Linked DNA regions of Homo sapiens: region 1 is linked to region 2. The links come from fine-mapping of genetic effects on gene expression. A gene starts in region 2. The other region holds a variant in brackets. All regions are shown on one strand. Distances are from middle to middle. Region 1 holds the start of LOC105372651 (a long non-coding RNA gene). Region 2 holds the start of PTGIS (prostaglandin I2 synthase).

Evidence for each region. PIP is the estimated chance that this variant, and not a neighbour inherited with it, causes the effect.
Region 1: its variant is fine-mapped to the expression of PTGIS in visceral fat (GTEx, PIP above 0.99).

Annotation. Positions count from the first base shown.
Region 1 is chr20:49,586,785-49,602,027 of GRCh38, forward strand. It overlaps LOC105372651 (a long non-coding RNA gene), which reads left to right and starts at 7,786. Exons shown (of 4, transcript XR_001754713.2): 1 at 7,786-8,045; 2 at 14,640-14,754. RefSeq lists an enhancer at 8,977-9,477. The variant C/G (reference allele first, on the strand shown) is at 7,929.
Region 2 is chr20:49,560,595-49,575,837 of GRCh38, forward strand. PTGIS (prostaglandin I2 synthase) reads right to left here and starts at 7,543. Exons shown (of 10, transcript NM_000961.4): 1 at 7,449-7,543. The coding sequence starts at 7,522. LOC101927486 (a long non-coding RNA gene) reads left to right here and starts at 7,450. Exons shown (of 2, transcript XR_244188.4): 1 at 7,450-7,579; 2 at 10,619-11,340. RefSeq lists enhancers at 7,843-8,459, 8,460-9,074.

The sequences.
Region 1 (15,243 bases), 26 kb after region 2:
AAAAAAAAGGCTGGGCGCAGTGGCTCATGCCTGTAATCCCAGCACTTTGGGAGCCTGAGGAGGGCGGATCAGGAGTTTGAGACCAGCCTGGACAACATGGTGAAAACTTCTCTCTACTAAAAATACAAAACTAGGCGGATGTAGTGGCGCACACCTGTAGTCCCGGCTACTCAGGAGGCTGAGACAGGAGAATCGCTTGAACCTGGGAGGCAGAGGCTGCAGTGAGTCAAGATTGCACCACTGCACTCCAGCCTGGGCAACAAGAGCAAAACTCTGTTTCAAAAAAAAAAAATCTTATCCAGAGAAGAAGTCATTTTTTTAGACACAAGAATACTTTGTTTATACAGATGGTTGCTATAAAAGGCCTGACTTTGTGCCGATAGAGAAGATGGATTTATGGTGAAGGCAGCTCCTGAATGAGCTCAGTAATCAAAGTCAAGGTCCTGCCAGGTTAAGCTGCAGCAGGCTCCGCTCCCTACCAAAAATGACAGGCTCTGCTCCATCTGATGGGTTCTGCTCCAGATGATGGAACTCATAAGGGCATCATGCTGTCAAACGGTTTTACTGCCAAGACTGTTGTTCATGTGTCCAAAGCATCACGTCTAACCTCTAGGTTACGATGACCCCAGAGCTTGCAAATCTTGGTGGAAGAATTGCACGGAGCCTGAAGTATGTTTTTCATCGGAAATGGTGCTCATTAAAGAAATACGTGCCTGTTAGCCATCACTTGGATTGTACATGACATCGTTGATGTTGCGTGTGTGTGTGTGTGTGTGTGTGGGTGCACGCACGCACTTGTGTGTTTACATTTTCTTTTCCTTCTTTGTTCCTCCACTAAAGCAGAAAAAGTGTTAGAAGATGTTTAAGAGAGATGTGGAAACAGAGAGAAATGCAGTTTTATCCACTCTTCTCTCTTGTAAGATAAAAAATGTGTCTCTGGGCAGGGCGCGGTGGCTCACGCCTGTAATCCCAGCACTTTGGGAGGCTGAGGTGGGCGAATCATGAGGTCAGGAGATCGAGACCATCCTGGCTAACACGGTGAAATTAAACCCCATCTCTACTAAAAATACAAAGGATTAGCCAGGCGTGGTGGCGGGCGCCTGTAGTCCCAGCTACTCGGGAGGCTGAGGCAGGAGAAAGGCTGAACCCAGGAGGCAGAGCTTGCAGTGAGCCGAGATCCGCACTCTAGCCCGGGCGACAGAGCAAGACTCCATCTCAAAAAAAAAAAAAAAAAAAGTGTCTCTGGGTGTTTTTAAGCCAAAAGCCATTCTTCACCAGGAGGGCTTGTGGGAAAGCAGATTCTGACTCAGTAGGTCTGGGGTGAAGCCTGGGATGCTACTTCTCCAATGCACTCCCAGGCAACGCAGCAGCCGCCAGTCTGGGAGCCATGCCTGGGAGTGGTGGGGCCTTAGCACACAGTGTGTGTCCCTGCCTCTGGACACCTCCTGCCATCCCTGCTCTTCCCTCCCGCTGCTAAGTCTCGCCCTGGTCTCCCTGCCTTCTTAGAGATGGCGCTTCCTTTAGCAAGTGTTTGCTCCACTTAAGGATTCAGGGAACATCCGGGCTGGAGAGATGCTGGAGACCATCCCGTCCAACTCTCTTCAGTTCCCAGTTGCTTTTGTGGCAAGAGCTAAAAACCCAACTCAACCCACACACGTTTATATAGACTTGTGGAAAATACAAAGGGCTTTTTTTTTTTGGTGCGTTTTAAAATATAAATGGTATCATATTGTGTGCGTCATTCTGTGCCTGTTTTTCTCTCTTAGTAACCAATCTTGGAGGTTTTTTAGGTCAGCAGAGAAAAACCTCCCCATTAACAGCAGTACAACATTCCAGGATCTAAACAACAGCCTTGACATTACTGACATTTACGGCTGGACAATTCTTTGCTAAGGGGCTGTCCTATGCATTATAGAATGGTTAGCAACATCCCACCGGCATGATTCCAGTAGCACCCCTCGCCCCCATCAGTTGTGACAACCAAAATGTCATCAGACATTGCTAAATGTGTCCTGAGAGGCAAAGCTGCCCTGGTTGAGAACCATGGGGATAAGATGTAGAAGAGCAAATTCCAAAGAGGTAAGATGAGTTACTTCCTGGGGCACAAGGAAGGACTGGAATGGGGATAGAGAGTTCTCATTCTTTATGACTTCATTCATTCATCCATTTCATACATATTTATTAAGCACCTGCCATGTTCCAGACACCATGCCAGGTGCTAGGGAGGCAGCAGGGAAGAAAACAAGCCAATACCTTCCTATTGTGGCTCTGCCATTCTCCCTGGGGAGACAGACATGAAACAAACAAGGAAGACATCAGTACGGAAGATGTGCTAAAAACTATGGGAGAAAGTAGGACAAGGGGAGCTGGGAGTGCTGGGGCCCAGGTGGGGACTTCAGAGCCTCACATATGATGTTTTAATGTATTAAAAGGAGAATATCTCCATGAGTTATTTGGATGATTTAAAATTTTTTTATTACTTGAGCCTAGGAGTTCAAGACCAGCCTGGGCAACACAGCAAGACCTTTCTCTGCAAAAATTTTTTTTTAATTAGCCAGATGTGGTGGTGCACATCTGTAGTTCCAGGTACATGGGAGGCTGAGGTGGGAGGATCACTTGAGCCTGGGAGGTGGAGGCTGCAGTGAGCCATGATGGTGCCACTGCACTCCAGCCTGGGCGACAGAGAGAGACCTTATCTCAAAAAATATTTTTTTTTTAAGATGGATGGGCTAAGCCAGTCCCAGCCTGGCTCCCTGAAGCAAGGAGATCTTTCAAGGGGCTGAACCCGGGTGCCTGGGCAGCAGCTGGCCTCAGCCCCCCATTCCTTCCTTCAAATCCCCTTGCTTAGGACAATAAACTCCTCAACAGGTACCCTCAGCTGCACTTGCATGGAGCTGCACCGCCATCCCAAGAGCTCGTGGTGGGCCTTTGAGGCACCCTTTCTCCATCTGTGTGGGTTCCTCCAGCCCATTGTTAAAAGATAGTAGTAATGTCTAACATCCCTGTAAAAAAATAATCCCCATGTTTCTCGAGGCCCTAGGTTTCTGGTCCCTGCTCCCTCTCTGACTTTTTCTCCTCCCACTCTCCCCCAACTCACTCAGCTCCAGCCACACTGACTTTCTTTCTGCTCCTCAAACGTTCAGGCTGGGTCCTGCCACTGGGCCTTTGCACTTGCTGTTCCTAATGCCAAGTCTTTCCCCATGGTCTCCCCACAGCCAGCTTCTTATCAACCAAGTCCCAGCTGACATGTCGCCTCCGCAGAGAGGACATCCCCGACCACCCCAGCCAAAGGAGGCCTTTTCTCCAAATCTCCTTACACGTCTCTCTCACATGTGTGTTTCTGTTACAGTTTGAATCTGTGTCCCTGCCCGAATCTCCTGTTCAACCGTAATCCCCAATGTTGGAGATGGGGCCTGGTGGGAGGTGATTGGATCATGAGGGCGGTTTCTCATGGTTTCACACCATCCCCCTTGGAGCTGTCATCCCAATAGTGAATTCTCATGCGATCTGCTTGTTTGAAAGTGTGCGGCACTTCCCCTCTCTCTTTCTTCCTCCTGCACCAGCCATGTGAAGATGCCTGTTTCCCCTTCAACTTCCGCCATGAGTAAAAGCTCCCCGAGGCCTCCCAGGAAGCAGATGCCACCATGCTTCCTGTAGAGCCAGCAGAGCTATGAGCCAATTATACCTCTTCTCTTTATAAATGACCCAGCCTCAGGTATTTCTTTATAGCAGTGTGAGAACAGACTCATAGTTTCCTTCATTGTACTTGTGACTTGATGAAATGATTCTGTTTGATTCTTTGCCGGGTTGTTGTCAGCTCCATAAGAAGAGGACTTTATCTTGTTCTCTGTGTACAAACACATAGTAGGTGCTCTGTAAGTACTTGTTGAACAAACATGTAAATGAATGAATGAATGAGAGCCAGTGTGATTTGGATGACTGCGTGCATGTGCTAAGTAAACTGTTTTCCATGATCTCTGGGGTTGTGTGTGTGTGTGTGTGTGTGTGTGTGTGTTCAGTTTGGTTTTTGCCACATCTTTATACCCTCTGTTCTATTACAACTTAGCATTTTTCTTTTTATATAAAGAAACTCATTTAAAGGAATCTTGACAATATCACTAGAAACAGAAAGCCAGTATCAGCACATACTTGCTATAAATAGCAAAAAAAAAAAAAAAAAAAAAAAAAGAAAAGAAAGAAAGAGAGAGAGAGAAAGAAAGGAAAACCCTATGCATATAAATTCCATGAAGATGTGAAAAAGTTATCAAATTCTCACAGGGTATGATTGCTACTGTAGTTTCTAAGCCTGAGGCTTTAGAAAATCGATACTCTCTTGAAAAAAAAAATTTAAGCCTGAGGCTGTTGTGTCTTTCTTAAAAAGGAGATTGGCAGGTGTCAGAGAGGTGTTCAAGACAAGTTAACTCCAACCCGAGGCTTTCTCAATGATCTTTCTCCAATTCATCCCAACACCCACTTGCCGCAGACCCTGTGGAAGGCCCCAGATCCAAACTCCCTTCCTGCTAACAGCAGCTGTCTGGGGAGATTTCCTTCCAGTTGAGCCATCCAAGGACTCCTCCCCAGCCCTTATCTGTGGAATGGAAAAAATACTAGCCCACACCTCATAGATTAAGAGAATCAAATGAGCTCATTTATAGAAAGCACATGGAACAATGACAAGCATGAAATAATAGTCACTGATGTTTACTGAGACTAACAGCATGTCACACCCAGTGCAAAATGCCTCACGTCCTCCCACAGAGTCTTCATAACAACCTTTAGCTCATGGAAGTACTATTTTTACCCTATTTGGCCAATGAAAAAGCAGAGGCCCAGGAAGGTGAAGTAACTTGTCCAAGGTCACACAGCAAGGAGGCAATAGAGCTGGGATTTGAACCCCGGCTGCCTGACTCCAGAGCTGTACAAAGCCAGATACCACAGAGGCTGGGTTATTGTTCGTCCAGACCCATGTTCCCACAGGTCCTCTCATCCCTTACCTGCTCCCTTTCTACCTTGTATTTCTATCCTCCTGCTCTGAGGAGATTCCTCTCCCTGAAGATGCTTGGGCTTGAGGGAACCAGGAGGAGAGGAGGTGAAGTTGGCCTGGATGACTCTGTGGTCAGGATCCTAATGACCCAGTAATTTTCCTCCAAGTCCAGTATTCTCAGGATTAAGTCCTAATCATCCATCTACCCACTCACCCACTCATTCATCCATCTGTCCATCCATCTATCCATCCATCCATTCATCCACTCACCCATCCATTCATTTACTTATTCATCTATTCTCCCATTCACCCATCCATCCACCCACCCACCCACACATCCACTTATTTACCCACCCATTTCATCCATTCTTCCATCCACCCATCTATCCATCTATCTATCCACTCACCTGTCTATCAATCCATCCATCCATTTATCCAGCCATCCATTCACCCACCCACCCATTCATCTGTCCTCAATCCACTCACCCATCCACTCATTTACTCACTCATTCATCTATTCTCCCATCCACCCTTTCATCCACTCACCCACCATCCATCCATCCATCCATCTACCCATGCATCCATCCATCCACCCATCCATCCATCCATCCACCCATCTACTCATTGACCCACTCATTTCACCTATTCTTCCATCCACCTATGTATTCATCCACCCACTCACCCATCTACTCATTCACTCACCCATTCATCTATTCTCCCATCTACCCCCATTCATCCACCAGTCCATCCATCCATCCATGTAACATTTACTGAAGGCTCACTACCTGCCTGCAAGGTTCAGGTGAGGGACAGAGCAGGACTGTACAGGTGTCTCTCAGCCTCTACCCTCCCTCATTCCTGCTTCCATCTTCTTCTGATCTGGGATAATTCCTCTCCTGGGAGATCCAAGGATGATGGGGAGCAAAAGGCGGTGGGGTGAGGGGTTGGGGCTTCGGCACTGCCTCTCTACTGAGGCCCCAGTCCCTTCTCTGTATGGACAAAATGGAAACTTGTGGTTTTTCTTCCTGCATTGAACCAGCAGGCTGAGCTGGGGCTGAACTCCTGGGACATTAAAAGGGGGTGAGAGGTGAAGATGCATCCAGGTGGGGGGTGTGTGTGTGTGTGTGTGTGTGTGTGTGTGTGTGTGTGAGAGAGAGAGAGAGAGAGAGAGAGAGAGAGAGAGAGGAGGTGGAGGGCGAAAGGCCTGTGCATCTCTGTCTCTGTCAGGCACACAGAGAATGGCAGTGGTGAGCCTGCAATGTATTGGGAAGACATTATTGTTTGCTCAGAAATGGCCAAGAACCCCAGCTCCTCCCTGCCAGGAGACACAGGATTCTGCGCCTCCAGGCACAACCGTCTTCCCTCCCTTCCACTTTCCTCCCTCCTCCTCAAACCCTTGCCCAGGTGCCCCCCGGCTGGCTGGGTTCACCAGAGGATAGATGACCACATACTAATCCCAGCCTCCTGTGGAGGTTAGTCCCACCCTCCACCGAGGTGGAAAATTCCTGCAGGTAGAGTCAGCAGTGGTTCAAGTCCCACCGTTGTCCATGAGATCGGACTACACAGCACACACGGCCGCTTTTTTTTACCTACCACGTGTCCCACGTCTCCTACAGTCCTTTAATCCCTGACCAGTCCTTCAGAGGATGGACACGCTCTGATCTTTGTAGCCTCTCTTTCTCTCCTCAGGGATCACACCTCACTGTAGACCACAGCCCAATGTCCCAGGTGACTCACTTACTAGAATTTGTAATTCACTTCATCCTGCCACCACGCCCCTGTGAGCTAGACACCCAAATTGACTCCATTTTACAGATTTGGAGACTGAGGTGCAGAGAGATTAAGTCCCTGTCTGAGGTCGCATGGTGGATGAGCAGCAGACACCCTGGCGGGCAGCCTGGCTCCTGAGCCACGCGTCACCACCGTCTTAGTGGAAAATCGGCCACAAGGAGGGATTCCCCTTCCAGTCTCCTGGCCCTTGCCAAAGGATCCATACTAGACATGAGAGGAGGAAGGGAGTCCACACCGAGTCTGGCCTCAAACCCTCATTCCTTAGGAAACTGCGCTAATGTCGCCCCCTCCCTCCCTGTGACCACCCCAGGTTGTATCTGCACCTTCCCAGCTAGCCCAGGTGTCATTACATATTTATCTGTTGATCACTCGGCTCCAGGGACTGCCATATCGGCCCAGGAAGTCACGATCTTGTCTGTCTGGTTAGGGGCTGTGGTCTGGCACTGGGCACATAGTCAGTATTCAATGAATTTTGGCTAAAGCCCTTTTGGATCGATCATCTATTGCCAGTGTGGCTCAGATGCAGCCCCCGCCACTGACTGTGTGACTCTGGCAGGTCACAACCCCTCTCTGAGCCTCCCTTCCATCATCTGTAAAACAGACTTATCTCTGAGTCCTACACATGTTAAACACTCAAAGGATTTCTGTTGCATGAATTAGTGAAATCCGAGCTGGAAGGGCCTCTAGAGCCCAGGGTTGCAAACTCATAGACTCCAAAAGCCAGGCAGGAGCCAGAAACCACCGAGGGAGCTGGGTGGGGACGGAGGCAGCTGCTACTCAGCTCTAGTCACAAGCACTGCCATATCTGGTTTCTCAAGAAAAACCAGAAATCTAGAGATTTACAAGAAGTTTCCCAATTTCTAAGTATTGGCAACTAATTTAAAACATTTAAACACATCTGTGGACGGGATGTGGCTGCAGGCCGTTTCTTTGCAACTCATGATTCATCTAACTGCTCGTGGCACAGATGAGATCAAAGCCCAGAGAAGGTGAGCCACCAGCCCCAGGTCACAGAGCACAGGAAGTGAAGAGGAAACAGTGACCTTTCTCCTTCGGCTGCAGCCCTGTTGCCCAAGCTCAGGGCAACCCCTGAGCCCTGATCCCAAGGGAGGCAGTGCCGCCTTCTCCTCTAGGCCTGGCAGTTCCAGGGTGA[C/G]AGGAAGGTCACGATATCTCTGTTTGGGTGCACTGCAGCCTCCGCTTCCTGCCAGGACCAGGCTGTATCAGGCACTGGGATGAAGAAAACATTCCAAGCAATGGGCTGGCCTAGAAGGTAAGAGCTGGTGGCAGAGAGGGGGTAAGCACACCCCTTCCTTACTTCAGGGACGTGCAAACCCCTTCAGCAGGCCTGGGCAGAGCTGGGAACAGGGCGGATCAAGCCCTGCTTCTGGAGAAACATGCTCTGCCATTGGAGGCTGGGAGCTCTGTCCCCGCATGGCTCGTAGGACCTTGGAATGCATTTGTCCAGCAGCTTCTAATACACCAGGCCCTCATCTGACCCGCACCCCCACAACCTCCATGGGCTCTCCTCCCTCTGTCCCCTCTTGATCTCTCTACGCAGGCACAATGGTGCCTGCTCAGCCCTGAACACAGCAGCCCTGCTCCCACCTCAGGGCCTTTGCACACGCTATTCCCTCTGCCTGGTTCACTTCACCCATTATGCAGATGGCTTACTGTAGACCTCTACTTGAATGTCGCCTTCTCTGTGAGACCCTCCCTACCTGTTCACTCTGTTTAAAAATGCAAACATCCCCCACAGTCCTTAGCCTCCATCTGGCTTCCTTTGACCCTGCTGTGCTTAGGATGGTGGGACACATATGTTACACGTGTTTATTTGTGTTTCCCTTTCCTGTTGCTGCTGTAACAAATCGCCGTGAACTTGGGAGCTGGAAATAACATGAATGTGTGAGCTTACAGTTCTGGAGGGCTGAAGCCCACAGTGGGTCTCAGCAGGCTAAAATCAAGGTGTGGGCAGGACCACGTTCCTTCTAGAGGCTCACAGGGAGAATCCGTTCCTCCAGCTTCTCAAGGCCACCTGTATTCCTGGGCTCACGGCTCCAACCTCCATCTTCAAAGCCAGCAACGGCGAGGCCATCTTTCCCATGCTGCATCCCTCCGCCTGCAACACCTCTGCTTCCCTCCTGCACTAAGCCCCTTGTGATGACACTGGGTCACGATGTCATCATCTGGGTAATCCAGGGTCGTCTCCCCCAGCTCAAGGAGACTGCTCAGCAGCCTCCATTCCCCTTGGCCGTGTAACCTTGTACATTCACGGGTTCCAGGGATGAGGACGTCTTGGGGAAGGGCGCATGAGTCTGCTGACCACACACACCAAACACACCAGGCGTTGGCTCCAGGAAGGCACGTGGTTTGCTGCTTTATGTATGTCCAATGCCTGGTGCATAGCAGGTGCTCAGTAGACCCTTGGAGACTGCGTGGGTGCTGGAGTAGAATGTTGTGGCCGCCAAAGGGAGGCAGGAAAGGTGACTCAGCTACCCCAGTGGTCCTCCCCGTCTTACTGATGAGGAGACTCGGGGAGAGCTGAGATGCTGAGGGCTGAAGAGCTGTGACTTAGCCCCTACCCTTCCACACCCATCCTGTGCCCACAAAGAGGGGTGGGCCCTGGGCTGTGTCGGGGAGCCCCAAAGAGAAGGCCTGAAGTCCGGCAGCTTTAAAGGGGACAGTCCTGGCCATGAGCCCTCTCTCTGAGCGCCCCTCACAACCCCTACAAGCTCCCCTCCCAAGGCTAGGCCAGCAGTGCCTGCAGGGGGCTGCCCAGGCGTGGTCCTGCCATGTGGGAACTGCCTGTGTGGCCCAGCAGGACCCAGATGAGTCACAGGAAAGCTGGGGTGCCCTCCCTCCAGCCCCACGTGTCTCCCTGGCTTCAAAGGAAACCGACTGAGGGTCCAAGTTTCCTCATGACTGAAAAATGTTCCACCCCAAAAATGTTCCACATGAGCAACAGCTCACCCAGAAAGAAAGAGAAATGAAGTAAGTGGCTTTTCAGCATGGGGAGAGACACTTGGCCATGCACAGCTACAGGCAGAGATCTGGGAAACAGAACGCCGGGGAAAGCAAGTGAGGAACAGGAGAACTCTGCAAATCAGAACACTCATCATAAAATAATTCTGCTTGTTTCACAAGGACACATATACATCCAGGGACATATATCATGGGCCTCGGTATGGAGGCTCAAGGAGAAAACAAAACAAAATAATTTATTTTGTTTTAAATTATTATTATTATTTGAGACGGAGTCTCGCTCTTGTTGCCCAGGCTGGAGTGCAATGGCCTGATCTCAGCTCACTGCAACCTCAACCTCCCGGGTTCAAGCGATTCTCCTGCCTCAGCCTCCCCAGTAGCTGGGATTACAGGCTCGCGCCACCACGCCTGGCTGATTTTTGTATTTTTAGTAGAGATGGAGTTTCACCATGTTGGCCAGGCTGGTCTTGAACTCCCGACCTCAGGCGATCCACCCGCCTCAACCTCCCAAAGTGCTGGGATTACAGGCGTGAGCCACTGCGCCTGGCCTAAATTATTATTATATGTTTATTTTGTTTTAAATTATTTTTATATTTTACAATGGAGCTTCCTGACATGTGACAATGATGCTACGGTTTTTTGTTGCTGTTTTTTTGTTTGTTTTTGAGATAGAGTCTCACTCTGTCACCCAGGCTGGAGTGCAGTGGCACAATCTCGGCTCACTGCAGCCTCTACCTCCCACGTTCAAGAGATTCTCCTGCCTCAGACTCCCGAGTAGCTGGGAGAACAGGTGCCCACCACCACGCCTGGCTAATTTTTTGTATTTTTAGTAGAGACAGGGTTTTGCCATGTTGGCCAGGCTGGTCTCAAACTCCCGACCTCAGGTGATCCGCCACCTCGGCCTCCCAAAGTGCTGGGATTACAGGCGTGAGTCACTGCGCCTGGCCAATGACACTATGCTTCACTGAACAAGCAAAAGGTACTCTGCTTCACTCTTCATTTAAAAATAGAAACTGAAACCATACTGAGACACCTGCTTCCATCTATTAGAGTGACAAAAACATCAGAAAGTTCACAATACATGGTGCTGATGAAGTTGTGGGGAAACAGGCACCCTCACACATTGTTGGTGGGAGAATAAATTGGTACAACCTCTACAAAGTGCAGTTTGGTCATATGGATCAAAATGTAAAATGCACAAATCTGTTATAAAATCTGACTTCCAGAGATTTCTCCCACAGATACATTCACACACACACACACACACACACACACACACACACACACACACCACACTATGTACAAAGACAGTCACCACAGTATTGTTTGTAGTTGTTGTTGTTTTGAGACAGGGCCTTGCTCTGTCAGGCTGGAGTGCAGTGGCGCAATCACAGCTCACAGCAGCCTTAACCTCCTGGGCTCAGTGACCCTCCCACCTTAGCCTCCTGAGTAGCTGGAACCACAGGCACGCACCACCACAACCAGCTTGTTATTTCATTTGTAAACATGAAGTCTCTCTATGTTGCTGTGGCTGGTCTCAAGCTCCTGGGCTCAAGCAATCCTCCAGCCTCAGCCTCCCAAAGTGCTGGGATTATAGGCGTGAGCTTCTGTGCCTGGTCCACAGTATTGCTTTATAACAGAAAAGGCTGGAAACAACCTAAAGGGCCATCAGTAAGAAAATAACTATTAATGAATATGGTCCGGCCATGCAGTGGAATACTATGCAGCTGTGAAAAAGGACAACACAGGTATGTGTGATGAATTAGAAAGAATGATAGGTATGTTAGGTTAAAAAAAGCAAGCTGCAAGACACTGGGTGTAACATGCATCTATATATGTAAATAAAGAGTGCATACAATCATGTGTGTTTTCGTACGTACAGACTTTCAGTGGCAGAGCCCGTGGGAAACTGGAAGCAGCATTGCTTAGGGAAAGTGAAACCTGGGGGTTAAGGGTGGGGAGAGACACTCGTTTTCATTGGATACTTTTTTCTGTCATTGAATTTTTTCCCATTTAAATGTCTTACCTATGTTTTAAACATAATTTTTAAAATATAAAAGCAATGCTCACTTGTCACAAAATCTAAGCAATGAAATGCAAATGATATGAAACCAGTTGTCCCTAACCACTCCCCTGAAATCACTACTATTAACATCTTTCCAGAGTTAACAAAAGGTCTTAAGTTTAGATATGCTTCTTTTTTTTTTTTTTTTTTTTTTTTTGAGACAGAGTCTCACTCTGTCACCCAGGCTGGAGTGCAGTGAAACAATCTTGGCTCACTGCAACCTCTGCCTCCTGGGTTCAAGCAATTCTCTGCCTCAGCCTCCCGAGTAGCTGGGATTACAGGCGCCCACCACAATGCCCAGCTAATTTTTGTATTTTTAGTAGAGACAGGGTTTCACCATCTTGGCCAGGCAGGTCTTGAACTCCTGACCTCGTGATCCACCCGCCTTGGCCTCCCAAAGTGCTGGGATTACAGGTGTAAGCCACCGCACCCGGCCTAGATATGCTTCTATATTATTCGAACTTGTGCAACAGGCTGTGTGATTTGAAATTAAACACAAGGGCCAGGCACAGTGGCTCATGCTTGGAATCCCAGCACTTTGGGAGGCCAAGGCAGGTGGATCGCTTGAGTCTAGGAGTTCAAGACCAGCCCGGGTGACATGGCGAAACCCCATCTCTAAAAATAATAAATAAATAAACAAATAGATAGATAGATAAATAAAGGAAATTGAACACAAAACCTCCCTTTTGAGTCAACGATTATCAAGGAGGCTGTTATAGTTGCAGAGGTGGCCTGGACAGAGTGGTGGCCATAGAGACAGAGAAGTGGCCAGTTGTAGGAGCAAATGTCACAGGTTCAACTGACAGGGTCAGACGCACAGGCAGGGAGAAACAGGAGGGAGGACATGCCATGAGCTCCCTTGTCTAGGCCCACACTGAGGTGACACGGCCCAAGTGCCCCAGCCCGACAGGGTAGACTGCGATCAGGGTCAGGAATTCAGTGAGGCAGGTCCTGGAGCACTGGGAGGGGGTACGAGGGTCTCAGATATCTGGGGCTGGGACTCTTGAGGTCATAGCAAGATAAGTGGATGACATACTCAGTTTCAAGAGTTAAACCCCAGATTTACATGGCTGCCTGGAGTCTGGATTCACTGGTGTGAAATTTGGAGGGAGATGACGATAATAAGAATACTAATACTAACAGTAACAATAACTATCATAAGAACAGAGGCCAACACTCTGTAGCACTTACTACAGGCCAAGTGCTATATACGTGTTAACTCATAATCCCACAATCACCCTCTAGATATAGGTGGGTATAGAGAAGCATGCCCCCATTTCACAGATGAGAAAACTGAGGCCCAGAGAGGTGAAGTAATTTGCCCACGGTCACACAGCTTGTATGGGATAGAGAAGGGCAGGGCGTATCACTGAACAAAATGGAGGTCCCTTCACCCCAGAGTTGCAAACCCAGCCTCCCTCACTCCCACTACCCCTCTGGGCCTCACTGCATGGATGGACAGTGGCAACAACCCCTCCTGGGCCTCCCTGACTCTACCCTCGTCCCCCATTCCCCACAACAGTCCCTTCTCTATCCAGCGGCCAGAGCGATCTTCCTAAAGTTCTAGTCTCATCTTCCCTTGGTCTGCTCTCAGGCAGGGCCAGGCATTAGGTGAGGCCAGCAGGTGCCGGCACAATGTCAGGAGACCCCCCTCCCAGGTGAGCCCCTGCTCTGGCCTGATTCACAGCGAGGCCTCCTTAGGTTTTGAACACTCAGTGTCCCTCTTGCACAGATGGGAACAGACAGTCTCTGGAATCCCCCCAAAGCCGCATTTGAAGTTTCTTTCCAGGCAGACAGGCCCTTTCCAGGCGGATGGCTGCTTCAATCCAGATGAGGATGGAGGCCTGGGGATCTGGCAGCTCTGGGCTGATGGCACCACGTCCAGGGGAGAGGTTTCTGTTTTCCTGCAGTGGTTCTCTGGCCTATGCTTGCTGGATGGGGGTGTTGGTAAATCCTCCAGCTTCCTGGGGCCTGGGGAGGAGCAACCCTGAGGTGGACTCTGCACCCACTCCCAGAGGCCCCAGCAGGACGGAGCCCCAGCTGCCCAACTGATAACCTGCTCATCTAGACACCCAGCAGTACCAGCTGCCCCCTCCCCTCTGCTCTCAGAGCTTCCTGCGATCAGCTCCCCGCTAAGTTCCCTGCCCTTGGACTCTCTAAGTGTCTGCTTCTGGAAGAGGCCCAAGCCAAGACCTGGGAGACAGGTCAGTGGCTCAGGGCTCTGTGGCTCATGATATCTGCAGTATTCTCTCTGTGGCCTGGGTCTTCCTGTCTTCTGGGTGATCCCTCGGCCTTTGGGAGGCCGAGGTGGTTGGATCACCTGAAGTCAGGAGTTTGAGACCAGCCAGCCTGTCCAACATGGTGAAACCCCGTCTCTACTAAAAATACAAAATTAGCCAGGCATCATGGGGCACACCTGTAATCCCAGCTACTCGGGAGGCTGAGGCAGGAGAATCGCTTGAACCCCGGAGGGGGAGGTTGCAATGAGCCAAGATCACGCCATTACACTCCAGCCCGGGCAACAAGAGTGAAACTCTGTCTCAAAAAAAGGAAAAGAAGAGAAAAGAAAAGAGAGAAGAAAAGAAAAGAAGGCAAGGAAGTTCCATAGCCCATACAGTGGGTATCTTAGGCAGGGCTCTATCAGATGAAAAATATAGCAGAACCCTGACTCAAATTGGCTGATGTCATGAGAATTTACGTCAACTGTCTCTGGTAAAAGCAGGAGTAGAGATAGGCTTCAGGCATGGTTGGATCCAGATGCTAAATCAATGTCTACAAAGATGCACTACCTCTGGCTCTCATCTCTTTTACTCCACACAGACTCTCCAGGTCATGATGTGACCAAGGTTGCCCCTTGCCACTCCCAGCTTTATTCTCACCAGCTCAGCAACCCCAGGGAAAAGGGAGCACCAATTTCCAATTGTTTCAGAACAAGGTCAGTGGCAATGTTACTCAAACTCGAACGTGCCCATGTTCACACTGGGGCCCTGGGGACTATGATAAAATGCAGATTCTGGCTCATAGGTTTGGGGTGGGGACTCAGATGCTGCATTCACTGCATTTTTTTTAAGATAGAGTCTTGCTCTGTTGCCCAGGCTGGAGTACAGTGGCATGATCACAGCTCACTGCAACCTCCACTCCTGGCCTCAAGTAATCCTCCTGCCTCAGCCTCCCAAGTAACTGGGACTTCAGGTGCATGCCATTATACCCAGTTAATTTTTGTATTTTTTGTAGAGACCTGGTCTTACTGTGTCACCCAGGCTCGTCTTGAACTCCTGAACCCAAGTGATCCACCCACCTCGGCCTCCCAAAGTGCTAAGATTACAGGTGCGAGCCACCCCGACCAGCCCAGATGCTGCATTTCTAACAAGCTCCCAGGTGCTCCTTGTGCTGCTGATCTGGAACCATACGTTGAGTAGGAAGG
Region 2 (15,243 bases):
AAAGGTGGTCAAGGAGGGCCTCCTCAGGAGATGCCACGTGAGCAAAGACCAGAAGGATGTGAAGGGAGTGCTCTGGGAGGGGCAGGGAGAAGAGTGTTACAGGCAGAGGCAACAGCAAGTGCAAAGGTACTGGGGTGGGAGCATGCTCGGTGAGGTTTTCGAGACAGCAGGAGCCAGCGTGGCTGGAGTGGAGAATGTGGGGACGAGACGTAGGCGATGATGCTGGAGATGACTTTGTGGACCACGAGGGCCAAGGCCAAGGTGGGAGTCCGGCTCCTATGCCACGCGTGGCAGGGATCCACTGGAGGGTTTGCAGCAGGAGCCAGTAAGTGATGTGACCACACCTTTAAAGGGTCATACCAGAGAAAGACAAGAGGAAGGAAGGAGATGTGTCAGGGAACTACCGTGACCCCCCCAGGAGAGCAATGTGGTGGAAGCAATGGCCATGGTCCCCGGGGAGCCAGACCTAACATCTGAGTCTCCCACTTTCAGCACAGGGCCTTTTGTTCCACACCCAGCAGTTCAGGGAAGCAGCCACTTCTCTTCCTCCTTTCCCCCTCCCTCTCTACCTCCCTCTGCCCCTGTCTCCTGCTCCCTTTTTCCCTCTACCTGGCTGCCCCCAGTATAACCCAAAGGGTGGGACAGCTCGTGGGCAGGAGCAAATGGCCAGATTTGAGGGCCAAGGCTGGGAAGGATGGGAGCAGAAGCAAAGATGAAATTTGAGGGCCTAGGAAGTGCCTCTCCCAACCATTCCCTCCTCTCCCCAGCCCATCCCGGCTTCTCTAGTCAAAGAGGAGACTTGCAAATTTGAGCTCTGTGAGTCTAAGGAGGTGCAGGGCCTTGCCTTGTGCCTCATCTTTTTGTGAGCCCCTGGGCTAAGGCCACTTCTCCTGAAGTCTCCACGTGTCGTGCTGCCCAAGTAGCCTTGGAATAACTGGTTCATGGCAGCCCCCTTCCAGCCCAGGTCAGAGCCTGGCAGACTGGACCCAGAAGCAGTGATTTTTGCATAAGAGGCAGGAGGGCATGGTCACGATGAGCCCAAACTTTAGCACCATACTTCCTGGCTTCAAATCCCAGCCACGCTTCTTGCTGGCTGTGTGACTTAGCTTCTCCATGCCTCTATTTCCTCATCTGTAAAATGGAAGCAATAATGCTACTGACTGCATTGGGCTGTGCCAAGGATGAGGGGAGTTACAGAGCACCTGGCACCTAGTAGCTGGGAAGCAGCTGAGAAGCAGGAGCAGTAAGATTCCTGGGCACCATTTACCTAGTGCCAACTACACATCAGGAGCTATACTTGGCATTTTCCAAACGTTTCCTTGTTTGGAAATAATGGCTAACATTTAATGAACGCTGATGGTGTGGGAGACACCACACTGAGGACTTTATCCCAGTGACTCAATGAATCCTCCCCCTAACCTTATGAGGAAGCAATTATTACTGCCAGGCCCATTTTACAGAGGAGGAAACTGAGGTGCAGAGGGCTAAGTCACATGCCAGAGGGTCCAACATAGAGGACTTGGGTTTCTAATCCAGACAGGTCTGGCTGCAGTGCCCACCCTCTTGACACTACCCTGGCCCCCAGTCACCCTAAGTGGGCATTTTCACCTCCATTTTGCAGAGATATTCCAGAGACCTACTCAAATGCAGGCCCTGAAATTTTCTCCTAAAACATCTTTGCAGGCGGGAGCAGGCTTTCTTCCCCTGCCTTTCTCCTGGCTGTGGCCGGAGCTCCCCAGCGAGCCAGGTGTTATTCCTGGCAGCTTTCCTCTTTCCCCAGAAAAGTCCCAAGGAGGCGCAGACAAAGGCAGGAAGCCCGGAGCCCAGGCGCCTGACCCCTGATGTTGGCTCCTCCAGCCTTGGGCCCTCAATCCAACTCAGGCCGTGGTCACATTCCAGGGTGACTCAGCCTGCAGCCAGCGGGGGCGAAGGAGGCTCTGTTTTGGGGACTGTGGGCTCTAGCCCCACCCACGGACACTCTCACTTTTTTTTAGGTACTGCCAGGCCCTGGCGGGCAGGGCGGTGGGCCCTGACCTTTCCATCCCCGGCTCCTGCCCACACAGCCGGTTTCCTGCCCACCCTGGGTCAGATCCCAAGGCATCTTTTCTGATTTCCGACTGGAGCCCCATCACATGGGTTCCTCTAAAAACGGCCTATTCCTCACTCACTGACCCCTGTCGCCTGCCCTGGATCTCTCTCCCACTTGACCCTTTGTGAACCAGGGAAAGGAGTCAAGGATGGGATGTCACCCGCCTCCATGCCCCCTGACGTATCGCATCTTCACTAGATGGAAGAGCCATGAAGGGAGGGCGTGTTGTTCACTCCAGCACTCAGAACAGTGGCTGGTCTGAATGAATCATGTATGCAGTCGGTGCTCAATGGGCAGCACCTGCCTCCCAGAGTTGCTGAGAGGGTTAAGAAAGCCAATGCAGGTTAAGCACTTGACACAGAGTCCATCTTCTAGATTGTCCAGAGCAGAGGCTGGCATGGTTCAGCTGTGCAATGTTGGGTAGACTGCCCAACCTCTCTGTTCAATCATTTCAACTCAATGCAGGGCCTTAAGCTCTGGGAGGATTTAATGGGGAACAAAAGGGGGCTTAGTTGCACAGGTGAGCTGGAGCAACCCAAAATTCTGTTTAACCTGCTTAACCCATTCTTCCCCCAGGGCTCACCCACAGGCCTCCAGGGTTTTCAGTCTGCCATTAACAGGGTTTCCCAGATGCTCTTCCATACCTGCCCCGCACTGCTACCACTGTGCATAAAAAGCACGTGGCCTTGCCCTAGTTTTTGTTTTCTGGTTTTTGAAATAGACACAAATTCACAGAATTATTTCTCAACACAGGAAAAAACAGCAGAGGAAGTACAGTGGTAACTAGAATAGCTGCATGCTGGAGAGGCAATAGGGAGTAGTGGGGACTGTGGCAAGATTTAGAGAGGGTGCTACCACTGAGTCCCAGGAAAGTATTGCTAGATCTTCCCATTTTTCAGAAGAAGTTGGAAATCTAGATTTTTGTGTATGGAATCCCCCAATTTTCTCCCCATGTCCCACACAGCACAAACCCAGCCCATCCAGGGCTGAATCCAGTCACGGACCACTGTTGGGTGACCTCTGGTCAGTGCATGTTAGAATGAGACAGATTTATTTGTGCCTACAAATTCTGCATCCTGCAAGGGCCCAGACCAGCCACTGGGCCACAGTGACCCTCGCTTGATGCCACTATGCCTTCCGGACCCCCAGAAAAGGAGCCTCCCAACCAAGAGATCTCTCTCAGTGCTCCCTGTGGTGGTCACACAAGCCCAAAGGAAGAGATGCAGTAGCCTGGTGATATGGCTGGGGCTTGAGAGACCACCTCCATGAGCCACCTCGAAGTACAGATAAACTGAGGCCTGGGAAGCAGGAAGAATGCTTCTGATACTCACAAGGCAAATCAATTAGTTTCAAGGGGCCCACAAGCCATACTCCTAACTCTCAGCTCACCACCCTCATGTTCACCGAATGGGGCTCGAAAATTCTTGCTGTAATTGCAGAAATTTGAATTTGAACTGGGAACTACATGACATTAAGAATTATCTTTTTATATTCTCAGGCAAGAAAATAGAATTGTAGTTGTCAGTTTTATATGCATTCTGAAATATTCAAGGGTGGAATATCATGACATCTAATTTTTTTTTTTTGAGATGGAGTCTCGCTCTGTTGCCCAGGCTGGAGTGCAATGGCGCAAGCTCCGCTCACTGCAAGCTCCGCCTCCTGGGTTCACGCCATTCTCCTGCCTCAGCCTCCTGAGTAGCTGGGACTACAGGTGCCTGCCACCACGCCTGGCTAATTTTCTGTATTTTTAGTAGAGACGGGGTTTCATCGTGTTAGCCAGGATGGTCTCGATCTCCTGACCTCTTGATCGGCCCGCCTCAGCCTCCCAAAGTGCTGGAATTATAGGTGTGAGCCACCGTGCCCAGCCTATGTCTAATATTTTTTAAATAATGTTAATGACTGTCAAATCAAGGTATAGGTACATGGGGCTTCTTACCGTATTCTTTTTCTTTTTCTGTATAGTTGAAATGTTTCCTAATTTAAAAGTTTTAAATTAAATTCTAAAGGTAAAGACGGAGTTGCTCACTCCCAGAAGTAGTGGTGTCTTACTGGGATAAGCATGAATTTTGGAGGGGCCTAGATGTGGAGTATAATTTTTGTATGACCTTGGGAAAGTCACTTCATCTTTTTAAACCTCAGCTGTATGATAAGGGTGATGGAAATTACCTCAAGGCTTGGTCAGGATAAAGAAATGAGACAAGGGAGCTGGAGAGCCTTGCTTATTTTAACCCAAACTGGATCACCATTCAGACGGCATCAGGGTCACCCACTTGTTTCACTTGTTTGCCCTTTTTTTTTTTTTTTTTTGAGATGGAGTCGCTCTGTCGCCCAGGCTGGAGTGCAGTGGCAGGATCTCAGCTCACTGCAACCTCCATCTCCCGGCTTCATGCCATTCTCCTGCCTCAGTCTCCTGAGTAGCTGAGACTACAGGCGCCTGCCACCACGCCCGGCTAATTTTTTTTGTATTTTTTTTTTTTTTAGTAGCGATGAGGTTTCACCGTGTTAGCCAGAATGGTCTCGATCTCCTGACCTCGTGATCCGCCCTCCCGGCCATTGTCCTTCTTTAAGAATTTTTTGCTTGTAGTTGCATTTCTTAGTATCTAAAAGTCACATGGTTCTAAGACTTTTGAGTGTTCAGATTACCAGTATAATGTGTGGGAAGACTGAGAATTCATTCTTCCTGTGAATTAAAAATTCTTGCAAAGCCAGGCGTGGTGGTTCACACCGGTAATTCCAGCACTTTGGGAGGCTGCGGTGGGAGGATCGCTTGAGCTGAGTTTGAGACCATCCTGGACAACATGGCAAGATGCCATCTCTACAAAATTTTTAAAATTAACTGGGCATGGTGGCACACACCTGTAGTCCCACCTACTCAGGAGGCTAAGATGAGAGGATCACCTGAGCCCAGGAGTTCAAGGCTCCAGTAAGCTATAATTGTACACTGCACTCCAGCCTGGGCCACAGTGTGAGATCCTATCACTAAAAGTAAAAGCTAAAAATTCTTACAGCCCAGAGTTTTAATCCAGACAGACCTTGAGCAAGTTGCTTAGCCTTTCTGAGCCTGTTTCCTCCTCTGTAAAATGGAGATAACCAGAGTGTCCCTAGCTGAACTGGAAGGAGAAAGTGAGATTGGGGATCTAAACTGGGGTCCCCAGGGTCCATGCACCTACCCTCAAGCTGCCAGTGACCCTCATTCCCACACTTCTCCCCACTACCCACTGTTGACCCTTCCAAGGTGCCCACAGGTATAAAAATCAAAGGCTCAGCAGGGCGCGGTGACTCACGCCTGTAATCTCAGCACCTTGGGAGGCCGAGGCAGGCAGATCACCTGAGGTCAGGAGTTCGAGACCAGCCTGGCCAACATGGAGAAATCCTGTCTCTACTAAAAATACAAAAATTAGCTGGGCATGGTGGCACATGCCTGTAATCCCAGCTACTGGGGAGGCTGAGGCAGGAGAATCACTTGAACCCAGGAGGCAGAGGTTGCGGTGAGCCGAGATCGTGCCATTGCACTCCAGCCTGGGCAACAAGAGGGAAGATCCATCTCAAACAAACAAACAAACAAAAAAAGAGCCCATAACGTATTCACATGATGGAAGACTCCAGAGAGGATCAAAAGAATGGATTCGATCTCCTTGTAGCAAAAAGATCTGCTTGTAGCAAAAAGAACAGATGTCAAAACTAAAATCTGGAGTGAAAAGAGCAAGCAACATAATGTCTGAAAACATTTCTATACAGTGTATTGAGAAAGCCTGACAGGAAAAATAATTCATTTCTTCCCTGAGACATTTATTCACTGTCTTTTTCTTTTCTTGTTTTAAGGCAAATGATTGACTACACAGTTGTAAATTTCAGCTGAAAAGATGTCTGGAGGTTGAAGAAAAATACAGTGAGCTTATTGTTTGAAAATTCAACTACCATATTGTTTAAAAATCAAAAAGTTCCCAAGGTTTCCGGAATTTTCAGACACGAATGTAAACTAACTCTCTCTTACGTGGCTCTGTATTAGCTACAAGCTCATGTCTATGTATGTAAGAGTAATTTTTATGTAAGAGTAATTTTTAAAACATCTGGGAGACTGAGGAGGTATGAAAACTAAAGGCAATGTGGTAACTTGGGGCCGGATCCTGGAACAAAAGAGGACAGTAATGGGAAACTGGATAAAATCCCGTGAAGTTTGAAGTTTAGTTAAGAGTAACGGACCAGTGTTGGTTTTTAGTGGCGACAAATGTCCCATAACAATGTAAGATGTTAACAATAGGGAAAACGGGGTGAGAGAAATACAGGAACTTTTTGTACTATCTTTGCAACTTTCTGTAAATCCCAAACTAGTCTCAAATAAAAAGTATATTTTTTTAAATATGGAAGGTTCTACCCAGACTCAGCAACAGGAGAGGCCCAGAGAGGGAGAGAGGACTAGACTTCAGGGGCTGGGGGAGGGTTAAGGGGCTTCGGTCTTACCTATAACAGGATAAATATTTGTGTTAAGTCGAATGTATTCAGCTATTCCTTATGCAATTCAAGTTAACTTAAAAAATATTTTATGAAAAGGAGAGCTACAGCTATCTCCTTGATTTGAGGCTGTCTTTACTTTTTCTCCTAAATCACAGATGCTCAATGGAGCTGGAAAACCTTTGGGACCAGGAGGCTGTGACATCTGACCCTGGCTCCGTTCTGTCCAGGCTGTGGGACCTCAGGGGAAGGTAGAGACTTCATAGGCCTCAGTTTCTCCCTGGCAAATGAAATTACTAAGCCCACCGACCCCCGTCTTCCAGACGGGGAATCCCGGGGTGGGTGGTTCCAGGGCATGATCAAGACATCCCCCAGGGGCTCTACACTCCGCTGGCTCAACACTCCCATCTGTGTAATGGGTTGAGGAGCGAGGCTATCCCTATAGGACTGCCGAAAGCAAGGCAGGGTTTGACAGCGCGTAGGTGGGTGCCAGGTGCAGGCAGAGGCTGGAGAGTGGAGAGCGCTTCTTCCACCCGGGCCACGCAGAGGCTGTCCCCGCACGGCTCCCCACCCACAAACCCTCGGTCCTCACCTGAAACCCCCTCCTAGGTCCCTGCCGTCGCGCTAAGGGCCAGACTCGGACTTGTCGCGGTGGGCGATTCGCCCCGGGGGACCTACCGGACCCCGCACCTTCCCACCTTGCACCTTCTTGGCAGGGGGAGCACGGCCTGGCCCCCTCACCCACGTGCGGGGCCCCGGGACTCCCACCTCCGAGGGTCTCGCCTTGCCCGGGATACTGGAGCGGGACTCGGGCCGGGCCGGCCGCGGGCTCCGAGACCCTTGGGCTGCAGCCCGGGCGGGAGCCGCCCCCTTTGTCTGGCGGGGCCGAGCGGAGCAGGACACTCACCGCGTGCGGCGGCGGCTCAGTAGCAGCAGCAGCAACAGTGCGGCCAGGAGGCCGAGGAGCGCGGCCCAAGCCATCGCGGGGCTGGCGGGGCTGGCGGGGCTGGCGGGGCTGGCGGCCTGGCCCACTCCCAGGTAAAGTTCCCCGCCCCCACCCGGCGCGCCCCTCCCACTCCGCCCACCCCAGCCCGCTTTGGGGCGGGGTGGGGGGGGTGGGGGATGGGGCCCTCCGAGGTCCGCAGGGGTCGGACCGGGGCGCTCTGTTAGAAACCCTGCTCCCCCCAGCTCAGGCCTGATGGAAAATGTGGGAGGGAGGGGAGGGGAGAAGGAGGGGGAGGGGGAGGGGGCGGAAGGGATGTGGTGGGCTGGGGAGTGATCAAGGGGAAAGGAGATAGATGGGGGACTGAGGGGGATGTGGTGGACTGGGGGGTGATGGAAGGGAGGGGAGAGGGAGAGGATTTACAGGAAGGAAGAGATTATATGCGGGGAGGGAAGAGGGATGGGGAAGATGGGAGAGGACTTTTGGGGAAGGGAAGAGGAGGGAATGTGGGAAGACGGCGGGACGATGGGGAAACAGCCAAGGAGGTATGGGGAGGAGGGGGCACAGTGGGAGGAGAAAATGTGGTGGGAGGGGACGAACATGGAGGAGGAGTGTAAGGGGGTCAGGAGGAGCTTTCCCACCACATTCCACATTCCACCTAGACAGAGGAAACCCCCCAAGGCTCCTCCTCACCCCATCCCCCACCCCAGGCGTGCTGGGGACCTGGAGTTTTCCATTCTGTGGTCTGGGCTGGGAGGGCTGGTCTGGATTATATCGCACCCTATAGTATCTTCAGTAACTACTGGGCAGGGGGTACAAGGGTGTCTCAGGGAGTCCCCTCATCCTCACCTGCTTTGGGGACAGATAGTGCCCGTGAAGTATGCACCCTCTACCTGGTGCACGTTAGGGCCTCCGGATGTGGTGGCCATTGTCATCGCTACCTGGTGCTTGGGGTGCCAGCCCCCTGTGCCCGCGGCTCTGCAATGTACCACCCCAGGGTGCTGATGAGAACTGGGGGTCAATCCAGCCTCACTCCACGCCCCTGCCCCCACCATCCCCATTCCCACCCTGGGAAGCGTTGGGCAGGTAGCTCAACCTCTCTGAGCTCACCTCATTATCTGGAAACAGGGAGGGCAGAGTTGTGCTTACCTCTGGGGCTGTTGTGAGGAAGTGATGAGAGCTTGACACTAAAAGGAATCACAAACTGTTGAGTGCTTGGCACACTAAGTTTTATGAAACCATGGGCTGAACCTGGAGGTAAGACCCAGGAGGTCTTGTTCTAGTCCTGTATCCACCCATTCAGTGCCGGGTGAGCTTAGGCACGTTTCATTCCATAGTCCCAGCAGAGCTCTGGAGAAGCTGTTGCTCCTCCTGGTCTCCTGGCTTCCATCCTTATCAGCCAGGGTCCTGACAAGGCCCTTCGAGAACCAGCATGATCCGCCCCTTCTCACCTTTACCTGCCTGACCCTATGCCCCCGACTCTCTCCCTCACCCACTCTGCTCCAGCCACACTGATCTCCCCATCTTTCCCTAGAGGTCCCACTGCAGGGCCTTTGCACGTGCTGTTCCCTCTGTTCGGAGCATTCTTCGCACAGCCTGCTCTTTCCACCACCTCCCCGGTGCCTCTATCTCTGCTCAGCTGTCACTGCAGAGAAGCTGTCTTTGGCCACCTGGTCTAAAACAGTCATCTCCTCTTACTGATTTTTGTTTCTTTGTTTTTTTGATAGTTTTTTTTTCTGGCAGTACTTCACATGTCCTGCTATCATACTCAAGATTCATTCATTTGCCTGCTTAATGTTGGCTGTCGAGGCAGCTGGATGACCCCCTTGTGGCCTCAGCAGATTCAGAACAGCAGGAGGCAAAAGGAGTTTTCTGATCCTCTTGTTTATTTTTCCAGCTTATCTGCCAGAGAAGCCAACAATCCCAAGAAGGCCATAGAACGGGTCCAGAGGATTTTCTCCAAATTTGGGGAGCTCCAAAGGGCTGTCTGCTAGCAGTGGGGTTCACAGCTGGGCTTGGCCGATCCTCAGCTTTGTGACCCCAAGCAGACTGCTCCACCTCCCTAAGCTGAGGTTCCTCATTGACAGAATGGGGAAAAGAGAACCTCATGGAGTTGAGGTCAGGAACAAACGACCTGGTCCATGGGGCACACCTATGTGAGTGCCTGTCACACCATGAGCATCAGGGAAAGTTAACCGCAATTAGCGCTTATACCAGTTCCGCTCCTCTCCATTATCTGTGATCAGGCTTGGTCTCAATTTTCCCATCTGAAAAATGGGAAGAACAGTTCCTTCCTCATGGGGCTGCTTTGAGAACTGAATTAAATGAAAAGAGAATGAAATCACCCAGCACAGGGTCTGGTATACAATAGGTACTCAATAAATATTAGTTCTTCTACTCCCCACCCCTGGCTTCAGTGCAGACCAATATCACCTCAATACAAATATCTCTTCCAGATACTCTCTTCCCTTCTCGACCCATAGACAAAATCCTCCCAGGGAAGGAGAGGCAGCTGCTCACACACCAAAGGGAGATGAATGTGAGCCTCTGGTTCTTCCTGGATTTGTTCAGGAGTCGGCATATGTTTAGGAAGGTGGCCAGGCCCCCTTCCCAGAGAATGACCCACCATGGGTCTGAGCTGGTCCAGGAAATCCACCTTTGCTAGTGATTTGTCCTGAGGTGGGCACCTTCCAGATATCTGTTGCGGGCTTCTAGAAAAATGTGTTTCCTTCCTATTTGCCTTCTCTTCTGCTTTGGGGGCAATCGTGTGGGAATGTGATTAGTGGGGGAGCTGAGGGGGGCTGTAGTGTTATGAGGGAAGGCCAAGAAAACTGCAGAGCCCCAAACCAGAGCTGCGGAATCACCATCCCTGGAACCACCTGCCTATAGATTTCTCATTTAATGAGCTAACCACACGTCTGTGCTAGGACACCATGAGTCAGATTTTTCTAATACTTGCAGCCAAAGACATTCCCAACTGAGACGCCTTCTAGATATGGCTGAAGGGAGGACCAAATGAGGCAATGATGCATCCGGAGCACCTCTGCAGGACTGGCCCATGCGAGAATTCAAAAGTGTTGCTTTGTTTTATTATTTTTACTTTGCTTACTGTGTAAGCTTTCTATGTTTATCAGGCTGACAGGACATCCAACCCTCTGGCTATGGCATCTTGGAGGAACAGGCAGGCCTTGAAAATAGCAGAAATTCCGAATTCCCCTGCCCCGGGAGGACTCAAAGGACCCTGCTGAGGACAGAGCTGATATGGCCTCAGAATAAAGATGAGGGAAGACCATCCCAAGGAAGACCCCTCTAGCCCATGGCAAAAGGGCTGGAATACGCAAGGATTTGAAAAGCAAGTTTTGCTTTCCATATAAACCTAAGCAAGTCGCTTAATCTGTGAGCCTCAACTACTTTACTTGTGCAATGGGCATGTTGCTGGTAGTGGTGATAGCAGGGAGCCACCGAGAGAGCTTCCAAGTGTGCCATCTAAGCCCTCCTCTGGGGAAGGGAAGCTCCTCTGGGGAAGGGAAACTGGACCCCCGGGAAAATTTATTCTCCCAGGGACGAACATCCAGACATTTCCCTGTAGGAGCCTCAGTGTGTTCAGATGTTCACTGTCCAGTAGAAACAAGACATCTAGGCAACTCTCCCATCTCACCAAGCCTCTGCTCTCTTCTGTGGCCACTGTGGGGTTGTGAGAGTAATGTCAAGACCCAACCCAATTAGAACACAGGGAATTTTGCCTGGGAAAGGGAGCCCTTCTACCCTACACCCCTGCTTTCTCTCTTCCAAGGATCAGGTCTGATTCATGTCTGCATCCTAAAGGCTACAAATAAACTGTGTCCGGAAAGGAAAATATTATGTGTATTGCCTTCTTCAAGGCTAAAAACCAGTCTCAACAGAGAGGGGCAGTTTTAAATATTTTTTTGTAACAATAGTTCTAACTTTAGTTAGTAACTGAAGCCATCTGAAACACTTTTTCATAATAATTTATTTATTCCCCACAAAGAACCTATAAAATGGGTAGTAAAATTATTCCGAATTCACAGATGGTGAAATCAAGGTCCAGAAAGAGTCACTTCACCCAAGGTCACGTAGTACTTCCTTTGATAAGCTAGAGCATGGGAATTTGATGGCTTCTTAGGACAAGCTAACTTACTCCCTGGTGCTGCAAACACACCCTGGGCCTTCCCACCTCCACACCTTTGCTCATGCTGTTTACCTGCCTGGAAGCCCTCTCTTTCTCTACCTTTTGATTTTTCCAAATCGGTTAGGAGCAGGTTCTCCAGGAGAGCCAAGATGAGATGAGATATACTAAAGGCTTATTGAGGGAGTGCCAGGGAGTAAAATGAAGAGGGAGCCAGAGAGGGCTGGGAGAAAGGGACAGAAAGGAGGACAAATGGAAGGAAGGGACAGAGGAAAGAAGGGACCGTGGGCTGCAGTGCATTCTTAGAAAGGTCAAGTCTGGCCGGGCACAGTGGCTCATGTCTGTAATCCCAGCACTTTGGGAGGCTGAGGTGGGTGGATCAGTTGAGGTCAGAAGTTCAAGACCAGCCTGGGCAACAAGGTGAAAACCCCGTCTCTATTAAAAATACAAAAAATTAGCCAGGAGTGGTGGCTGGCACCTATAATCCCAGCTACTTGGGAGGCTGAGGCAGGAGAATTGCTTGAACCTAGGAGGCAGAGATTAGAGTGAGCCGAGACCGCACCACTGCACTCCAGCCTGGGTGACAGAGCGACTCTGTCAAAAAGAAAAAAGAAAGAAAGAAAAAGAAAGTAAGTAAGTTAGTTCAAGGCTAACAGGTTGTCCTTGAGCCTCCTGAGGAGCCCTATGTCTCCCAAGAACAAGTCTGCTTCCCCCAGTGATTGGCTAGGAGCAAACCCTGGGAAGCATGGCATATCTGTCAATCAGGCTCCACCAAGGGAGGTCCCAGAGGTGTGTTTTCATGGCTGCTGCAGCTACGAAAGGAAGCACAGCTGCCGTCTAAAACTGGAACAATGCAAGAATAAATTCTTCCACTTACAGAAGCTAAACGAGGTTGAGAGGTGGAGGGGAAGGAGAGACCCAAACCGCAACGTTTCTGGTGTTTTTGTGCTGCTAAAGAGAGAGTGGTAAACTCAAGTCTTCGAGCAAGTATTGCAAATGAATGAAGTGAGCCAGTCATATCAGGAAGGCAACAGGGAGGGATGGGAACAATGGAAAACTAGAGAGGGCTGCCCCATCCAAAAGGAAGCAGCTTCTGGCAGTACCAGCCAACTAAAGCCACGTAGAAATACATGCCTAGTGTGGCCAGATCTTTAGACTCAAGAGAAGCCAGAAATAATGGCTCCAATTATTTTAAAACGCTGCATAGACCAACAGCACACACCTGCCCCCAGATTTTTAGCCCTGCAGTCTAGTTGTGCCAAGGGCCAGTGGTTTAAACATTTGGGGTATGTAAAATAGGTTTGGAGTTGGGATGTTGAACAAAATTGCTCTGTAGAATTAAGGAAGGACAACAGAGTTTTAGGGGGCAGCCTGAAAGAGGGGGCAAAGACCAGGCCGACATGAGCACAGATTGGGGGCCTGTCCCAGTGTGACATCCTCTGTGGAATTAGGAGCCAATAAATGACCATTTCTATTGGTGATGTGTCATACTGAGTGTTTAGTTGTTTGCTGTCTTGGGCTGTGGAATAACACCACACATACACTCATATACATACACACGCACACACACACATGCACTACTCTCACATACACACTCACATGTTGCCCCAGTTACCCCCAAACGTTCAGAAACAATCTGCTACACACGTCAAGTGACCAACGCATCCTGGTTTGCCCAGACTTTCCCAGTTTTAGCACTGAGAGCCCTGCATCCTGGGAAACCTCTCGGTCCTGGGTAAACCAGGAAGGTTGGTCACGCTATCACCACACCTCAGCGTAGCGTGTGAGTGGCCAGAGATTGGGTCAGAGCTGTGGCAGCCACCTTGGAGCCTGAGGAGAATCTTTGCTAAGTCACACAATTAATTAGCCACCCCTGGAACTGTGCTGCAGTAGATTAGATCATAGTCTCCAATTTTTACCCACTCCCTGTATCAGAATTAGACATTCACGCCCTTGGCTGCAGGGTTGCGGTGCCTCCCACTATGAGCAGAGAATAGTATCTCCCTGACTCAGTGATGGTGGACTCGGGCCTGTGACTCAATTTGATCAGTGGAGGATGAAGAAATGACCAGTTGCCAGTTCTGAGCAGAGGTTTCACGAGGAATCACATATTTCCACTTGACCTTGGTTTCTGCCTTGAGCCATGACCCACAGGGCAAACCTGAGCTCAACCTGCAGCCTGAAGTAGAGAACCCCTAGCTGACCTGCAGAGGTCCGAAGAAGAAAAATGTACGTGTTGTTACAAGTCATGGAGATTTTGAGATCTTCTTAAGCAACAAGAATTGACTAATGTATACTTTATCTCTGAACTTTTTAGAATCCTTTTGGTTGAATGTTCTTTGTACCAGTTAAATTAGAATAGGCTGCTTTCTACTCTTGGAGCCTTGGTACATCTGTACAAGAGGATGATGACGACAAGGCCCCCCTCCCATGGTGGTTGGACGAATTCAAGAAGATCTTGTGTCTAGTGCATGCAGTAGGCACTTAATAAAAGAGATGATGCTAGGCCGGCTGCAGTGGCTCACGCCTGTAATCCCAACACTTTGGGAGGCTGAGGCAGGAGGATCATGAGGTCAGGAGTTCGAGACCAGCCTGGTTAACATGGTGAAACCCCGTCTCTACTAAAAAATACAAAAATTAGCTGGGTGTAGTAGGGGACACCTGTAATCCCAGCTACTCAGGAGGCTGAGGCCGGAAAATCATGTGAAACCAGAAGGGCGGGGGTTGATCGCGCCACTGCACTTCAGCCTGGGCAAAAGAGTGAAACTCTGTCTCAAAAAAAAAAAAAAAAGAAAAGAAAGAGAGATGAAGCAAGGCTGGGCTCAGTGGCTCACGCCTGTAATCCCAGCACTTTGGGAGGCTGAGATGGGTGGATCACTTGAGGTCAGGAGTTCAAGACCAGCCTGGCCAACGTGGTGAAACCCCGTCTCTACTAAAAATACAAAAATTAGCCAGGAATGCTGGCGTGCGCCTGTAATTCCAGCTACTCAGGAGGCTGAGGTGGGAGGATTGCTTGAACCCGGGAGGTAGAGGTTGCAGTGAGCCGAGATTGTGCCACTGCACTCCAGCCTGGGCGACGGAGTGAGACCCTGTCTTAGCAACAACAACAACACAGCAGCAGCAGCAACAGCAACAACAACAAAAGAGATGAAGCATAATTCTTTCAGCACATATTACCAAGTATTTATTTGCCAACACTGTGCAGGCCTCTTTATCAAGAATTTTACTGAAGAAATGAAAGACAGAAAACCTCTTCACTTGGTCTTTTTTATACATGAAGAGAAAGCAGGTCTGAATCAGAGGCAGAGGGTTGGAAGAAATGACCTGTTTTCTGCCATCTGGGCCTTGCTGCTGACTGTCTCTAAGAATTTGCACAGGCCTGGGCCTTTGGAGATTTGAAGGTCTCTAAAGTGCAAGGATGTCAGCTGCAGGGGAGCCATCCTCCAGCATCCTTCCCCAGGAGAGCCAGGATTATGTAGGGAATGTGCTTGGCTAAGAGCCCAGAGGTGGGGCAGCTACCCAGATGCAAACATGGCTGGGCCAGGCGGCCTTTCGTTCAGCGTTCCCAGGCTAATTCCACCTAGACCTTGTCTTAGCCTGTGAGAGGATGTT